Linked DNA regions of Homo sapiens. The protein of the gene in region 1 interacts with the protein of each later gene in a pairwise test. Each region holds a gene or a part of one and is shown on either strand. Other genes may lie near its edges. The genes, in order: MKNK1 and RCN3.

Region 1 (3,818 bases):
TCGTCAAAAGGGACTGTATTTCCACCTGATTGCTCTAACCAATTCCCAGCTTCCTACACTTGTGCATAATTAAATTACCTGTAACATTTTATTACGCATCTTCCCCTAGACTGTTAGCCAGGGACAGGGTAGAGACTATGTCTCCTTCATCTCTGGGACCCCTACACCTAGCAGAGGCTCTGGTATGGGGCAACCACTTCATAATTGTTAATGAATGGATGGAAACAGCTGAAGTTATTCTTCCCTTAAGCTGTTTTAGCTGGACTCTTATTAGAAGACCGAGTACAGTCTGGGTCACTGCCACAAAGCAGAAAAACCGAAGAGAAAGAAAAGAGGCATGACCAATGTGATCCAAGCAATGGAAAACAGGTTTTAAGAGTGAGGTTAAAGAGACCAAGGCTGTTTAGCCGGGAGAAGAGAAGATGAGGTTTAACTGGATTCTGGCTTTAAGTACAGAAAAGGTTCTCATGAGAAAATCTTGATCTCATCCTCCCTTTAAAATCAGAAGAAACTTTTCCATATTCATGGAAAATGGAACAAGAAGAAATGGCTTAAGTTAAGGCCTGAAGGGTTTAAGCTGGACAGAAAGAAGAACCAAATTAGGCACCACTTTTCCAGAGATACTGTTATTGTACTTTTGGCAAGTGAATTGGAGGAGTCTTGCTTGGCACTCTTGTTGAAGGCTGTGAAAAAAGTAATATATGTGCTGCTCTGTTCCTGTTTACTGTGGAGAGAGGTGAAAACACAAGTCAGGTAAGATTTTCTAACGAGCCACTGATTTTTATTGACCCATTTCCTACAGGCACTTTCTGCCATGTTATGCATTGCAACCATGTGCTGGAACAATCTAGTATCTCAAAGGTTCCTGACAGGGCAATGGAAAGAAAGAGAAGGTAACAATGCGGGGGAAGGGAAAATGGCCCTAATAAATATACTTTCTATAAAAACAGTACCAAACTGGGCATTCATATATTTATTAATATTATTACTATTAAAGCTCACATTCATTGAGCACCTACTGTGTGCCAGGCACTGTGCTGTTGTATCTCAATTCTCATAACAACCCCATGAGGTAAGTAATATTTGTATTCTCATTTTACAGATGAAGGAACAGAAACTCAGGAAGATTAAATAACTTGCCCAAGTCACACAGGTAGCAAGTGACAGAGCCAGGACTCAAACCCAGATAGCCTGACTCTAGAGTCCACATACCTAACTACTGTCTCTCTGTAAGGATGAGAGGCTGGAATATAAACTCTAGTCTCTCTGAATCCTGTTTATATTCTCAGTTCTTCCTCATACAGTCCCAAGCCAGGACATTAGCAAGAGTTGAGGCCTCAGAAGTGAACCAAAATACTCCTCTGATTATCAGCATCTATAAAATGGGGGCAATTACACCCACATCACAGAGTTGTCATGAGAATTAAGTGAGCTAATGTATATGGAGCTCATGGCATCAGTGCCTGGCATACAGTAGGCACCCAATAACTAGTAACTGTTATTCCCGCTTCTGATATGGCTTCCCCAGATCAGCTGTGGCTCTGGAAAGCAACCCAACGACTCTGTGAACCATAACTGGCTGCAGGAGGGAATAATCTGACAGCAAATACAAAGGAAAGAAACAGACTGAGGACTCTCAGATGATAATGAGCAGGTGCAGGACTTGAATGCCAGCCTCTGCACTCCAAGTTAGTGCTCTGTCCTACTTACAGACTCTTGTTGAATTTGAGGGTGAGAAAATGAAGAGACAGGATGTGCCAAACAGGCTGCCTCCCCCGACAGACCCTTTTGTAACGTCAATCTCCCATCAGAACCCATGCCTGAAATACCAGGGTCCTGCAGCTTCTGTAAACTGGTTCTAAGATTCTACTAGCTAAGGATGGCAATGCACTGATTTATGGCACTGTGGGTGCTGCCAAAATGATCACCTATTAAACCTATCAAGCAGACCTAGTCCATGCAGCTTCCAAACTAGGCCAGTGATTCACCGTTTAAGCCTCTTCACTGATGTCCCCATTCTGGGACCATCTTTGCTCCAGTCTAACCTCCGTCCTGCTGCCAGAGAAAACCGAGCGCCAGTCAGGGCATTTGGAGCCTCTAGCATAAGGAAGATAACATGGGCCTTTGAACTCAGCACTGCTAGTTTTGAACCAAGCTGTGCCCTTACTATCTATCTAACCTTGGGGAAGTCACTTTAATCTTTCTGAGGTCTGGTTTCCTCATCTTTAGATTGGAGATAAATAGGCCTATATTACAGGATTAAATATAGTATGTAAAGCAACCAGCATACTGCAAGCCACAAAGCAAAGGAGACACTTTATAAATGCTAGTGTTCTGCTCCCTACTCCACTCTCTACATTTTAGCCAAAATCTGCCAATTCGGCTTACTTCTTCTCCTCACCAACTCCTCTCCCCTCCCACAACACACACACACACACCCCTACACCTGAGCATTTCTGCCTCTCAACTGTTGCTCAAGCTGTTCCTTCTCCCAGGAATAAACTCCCTCCAAGGCCCAGCATAAATTCTCCACCTTCAGGAATCCTCTGGTCATGCTGGGATTGATTTCTCCTTCTTCCAAACTCCCACTTTGTTTACATTCCTTACTACATTTACCATAGTCAGTCTGATTTCAGTTATTTATGTACTTATCTATCTTCCCAACTACACTGGAGGGAGAAGGTTCTGAGAAGACAATTATTTATAGGAGGGCAGGAAATGTGTTGTTTTCCTCTGTGTATATTTCTCAATACCAGGGTCTTGTACATAGCAAGAGCTCAATATGTGCTTACCGAATTGAATCTTTCCATCCTATACTGGGAATCTTTACAGAAAGATCCCAGACTGAGTTCATTCTAAAACTGCATTTACTGCCTAACTTGATAAATAGGCAATTTTTGAAGTACATGAATATTCCTAAACTAAGATCCGCTAATACTCATGTGGGCTTGTTTCATTCCTTCATCCATTCTTCCAATACACTCTGGACTCTTCTTGGGATCTCTCTCCAGCATATAAGGAGACATTGCTGGGACAACACTTCTCACTCACGGAGATCTGGGAGCAAGCTCTTTGGAGAACTGTTCCACCCCACTGGGTAGGAGGTGACTGCCATTAAAACCACACTAAAACCCAGAGTTGTGGAATTGGAAAATAGATCTGAATGATCTGCCTTAGTTTCCAAGCTATAACACAGAGTTAAAAACACTTTTAAAAACAGTGTCTGGAACACAGCAAGTGTGCAATAAATGTTCGATGTTGTATTAACAACGTAGTAGACTGAAAAAACAGAGTCATGACATTTCACTTCTAGAACTATCTCCACTACTGACTGATTCCTTGTGTAATCTTTTTTTTTTTTTGAGACAGAGTCTCACTCTGTCGCCCAGGCTGGAGTGCAATGGCACAATTTCAGCTCACTGCAACCTCTGCCTTCTGGGTTCAAGCGATTCTCCTGCCTCAGCCTCCCAAATAGTTGGGATTACAGGCACCCACCACCATGCACAGCTAATTTTTGTATTTTTAGTAGAGATGGGGTTTCACCATGTTGGTCAGGCTGGTCTCGAACTTCTGACCTCAGGTGATCCACCTGCCTCGGCCTCCCAAAGTGCTGGGATTACAGGCGTGAGCCACACACCGGCCTCCTTGTGTAATCTCAATCAAGTCCTTTCCCCATCTATAAAATGAAAGTGGCGGAACCAGATGGTTGGTTTCCAAGCTCCTTCTACCTTCAACCATGTAAATTTTTCTCTGATCAAGAAATAACTTTCTCTTCCACATGCTGAGGCTGTTGGCAAGGGAAAATGTGCATTTATAGC
Region 2 (3,384 bases), on another chromosome or scaffold:
TTATGGGCGTGCACTACCACGCCTGGCTAATTTTGTATTTTTAGTAGAGACGGGGTTTCACCATTTTGGTCAGGCTGGTCTTGAACTCTTGACCTCAGGTTATCCACCTGCCTCGGCCTCCCAAAGTGCTGGGATTACAGGCGCGAACCACCGCACCCAGCCTATCTTCTCAATTACTTCATCCCATTAAGACTTCATCTTCCATTCCTCAGCTCTACCAGGCAGACACTGTCACTATCCTCCATTATATAGATGACACCTGAGGCCCAGGGGGGTTGAAGGGATCTGCTGAAGACAATGGGAAGAGGCAGGGCTAGGATTTGAACCTTGGTGTTTGGGCTCTGGCACCTATTTCTTAACTCCTCCCCAACCAGTAACATATCAAAATGTATAAAATTGGGGTGGGTGCCATGGCTCACGCCTGTATTCCCAGCACTTTAGGAGGCCAAGGTGGGTGGATCACTTGAGGTCAAGAGTTCAAGACCAGCCTGGCCAACATGATGAAACCCTGTCTCTACTAAAACTAGAAAAATTAGCTGGGCGTGGTGGCGGGTACCTGTAATCCCAGCTACTTGGGAGGCTGAGGCAGGAGAATCACTTGAACCCAGAAGGTGCAGGTTGCAGTGAGCTGAGATTGTGTCACTGCACTCCAGCCTGTAATCCCAGCACTTTGGGAGACTGAGGCAGGTGGATCATGGGGTCAGGAGTTTGAGAGCAGCCTGGCCAAGATGGTGAAACCCCGCCTCTACTAAAAATATAAAAATTAGCTGGGTGTGGTGGCACGCACCTGTAATCCCAGCTACTTGGGAGGCTGAGGCAGGAGAATCGCTTGAACCTGGGAGGCAGAGGTTGCAGTGAGCTGAGATTGCGCCATTGCACTACAGCCTGGGCAACAAGAGCGAAACTCCATCTTAAAAAAAAAAAGGGGGTGGGGTCTTGCCCTGTTGCCCAGGCTGGAGTGCAGTGGGGTAATCACAGCGAGACTCCATCTCAAAAAAAAAAAAAAAAATTTGTAGAAACAGGGTCTTGCTATGTTGCCCAGGTTGGTCTTGAATCTTGGCCTCAAATGACCCTCCTGCCTGGGTCTCCCAAAGTGTTGGATTACAGTCATCACTGCACCTGGCATCTCTGTCACCTGCTAACTGGCCAGAAACATCCTCGCACGTTCCTCCTGCATAGACATTGCTTACTATGTGCCAGGCACTGCCTTGCCCATTGCACACACTACTTCACGTGTGTGTCAATGAAATCAATCAATCATGCAATCAACCAATCAAATGAATTTCACCTGTAACACAAATGATTGCTTATAAGTCAGGTTTTGTTACTAATTCCATCGAAACAGAAGAGGACGCTGAGGCGAGAGAGAGGGTAGTGAGTTGCTCAAGGGCCTGGTTCAGGAAGTATCAGAGCCAGGATCAGCCCCCAGCTCCACTAGACCCCCAGAGCTGCCCCTGACCTTGTCCCCTCTGTCCCGGCCCCCAGCGGATCTGTACTCAGCCGAGCCTGGGGAGGAGGAGCCGGCGTGGGTGCAGACGGAGAGGCAGCAGTTCCGGGACTTCCGGGATCTGAACAAGGATGGGCACCTGGATGGGAGTGAGGTGGGCCACTGGGTGCTGCCCCCTGCCCAGGACCAGCCCCTGGTGGAAGCCAACCACCTGCTGCACGAGAGCGACACGGACAAGGTGCAGTGACGGGGCCTCGGCAGGAGCGAGGAGCGGGTGGGCATTGCGGGCCAGACTCCAGAAAGGAGCAAGACCTGGGCCTGGAGCTCAGGGTCCCTTTTAGGTGGGATAAAAAAAGAGGGACAGAGAGAGGGAGGAAAAGAGAGGGCACGGAGCCCCAGAAAGAGAGGGGGACAGAGACCCAGAGACCCAAAGAGAGAAGGACAGGGACCAAGACGGGGACAGATTCAGAGAGAAAGGGACAGAGGCCCAGAGAACAAGGGTCCCAGAGACTTCGGGACACGCTTGGATGCAGGGAGGGCTTTTGAAAGCAGGGCCGTGTTGTCCCCTCTGAACCCTGACCCTCCCTCCAGGATGGGCGGCTGAGCAAAGCGGAAATCCTGGGTAATTGGAACATGTTTGTGGGCAGTCAGGCCACCAACTATGGCGAGGACCTGACCCGGCACCACGATGAGCTGTGAGCACCGCGCACCTGCCACAGCCTCAGAGGCCCGCACAATGACCGGAGGAGGGGCCGCTGTGGTCTGGCCCCCTCCCTGTCCAGGCCCCGCAGGAGGCAGATGCAGTCCCAGGCATCCTCCTGCCCCTGGGCTCTCAGGGACCCCCTGGGTCGGCTTCTGTCCCTGTCACACCCCCAACCCCAGGGAGGGGCTGTCATAGTCCCAGAGGATAAGCAATACCTATTTCTGACTGAGTCTCCCAGCCCAGACCCAGGGACCCTTGGCCCCAAGCTCAGCTCTAAGAACCGCCCCAACCCCTCCAGCTCCAAATCTGAGCCTCCACCACATAGACTGAAACTCCCCTGGCCCCAGCCCTCTCCTGCCTGGCCTGGCCTGGGACACCTCCTCTCTGCCAGGAGGCAATAAAAGCCAGCGCCGGGACCTTGTGTGTCTGTCTGTTGTCTGCCTGTCTCTATGAAGGGTAAGGGGGCCCTGGAGATGGTTTGGGGGCTGTGACTGGGAGTTGGGGGCTGAGACATGCAATAGGGGACCAGGCATTTGAAGGAGGGGTGCTGGGTGTTGGAGGGATTGGAGGGCGTTCCTCAGTATAAAACAAACAAACAAAAAAAATTGGGCCAGGCCCGGTGGCTCACGCCTGTAAGCCCAGCAATTTGGGAGGCTGAGGCGGGTAGATCACGAGGTCGGGGGTCCTAGACCAGCCTGGCCAACATGGTGAAACCCCGTCTCTACTAGAAATACAAAAATTAACCAGGCCTGGTGATGGGCACCTATAATCCCAGCTACTCTGGAGGCTGAAGCAGAATCGCTTGAACCCGGGAGGTGGAGGTTGTCGTGAGCCGAAATGGCGCCACTGCACTCCAGCCTGGGTGACAGAGGGAGACTCTGTCTCAAAAAAAAAAGGGAAAAAAAGCCTGGACTCTGCAGCGCACAAACCAGACAGGAAGCCCTGCCCTCTCAGAGCTCCAGTTCTGTAAGGAAGAGACACAGCGACCTAAAATATGGCACGGCGCAACAGATGCTGTGAAGCAGGGGAAGCGTGTAGCAGTGTGGCAATGTTCTGATGACTGAGAGGCTGGGAAAGGTCTCAATGGTAAATGGAGTGAAGGAGGGAGCCACGGAGAGATCTGGAGGGAGAGCATTCCAGGGAGAGAGAAGAGCAAGTAAAATGGCCCTGAGGCAGGAGTGGGCCTGGTGTGGCAGCATCAGCAAGGAGGCTAGAGTGGCTGGAAGGGAATGAG

The links.
Region 2: the proteins of MKNK1 (region 1) and RCN3 interact in a two-hybrid assay, tested with the Homo sapiens proteins (one large-scale study listed by BioGRID and IntAct).

The regions. Positions count from the first base shown.
Region 1 is NC_000001.11:46,597,573-46,601,390, forward strand, and holds part of MKNK1 (MAP kinase-interacting serine/threonine-protein kinase 1), read right to left. Parts: intron 1-3,818. UniProt on the Homo sapiens protein: May play a role in the response to environmental stress and cytokines. Appears to regulate translation by phosphorylating EIF4E, thus increasing the affinity of this protein for the 7-methylguanosine-containing mRNA cap.
Region 2 is NC_000019.10:49,541,068-49,544,451, forward strand, and holds the end of RCN3 (reticulocalbin-3 precursor), read left to right. Parts: intron 1-1,485; coding exon 1,486-1,685; intron 1,686-2,038; coding exon 2,039-2,146; 3' UTR 2,147-2,566; downstream 2,567-3,384. UniProt on the Homo sapiens protein: Probable molecular chaperone assisting protein biosynthesis and transport in the endoplasmic reticulum.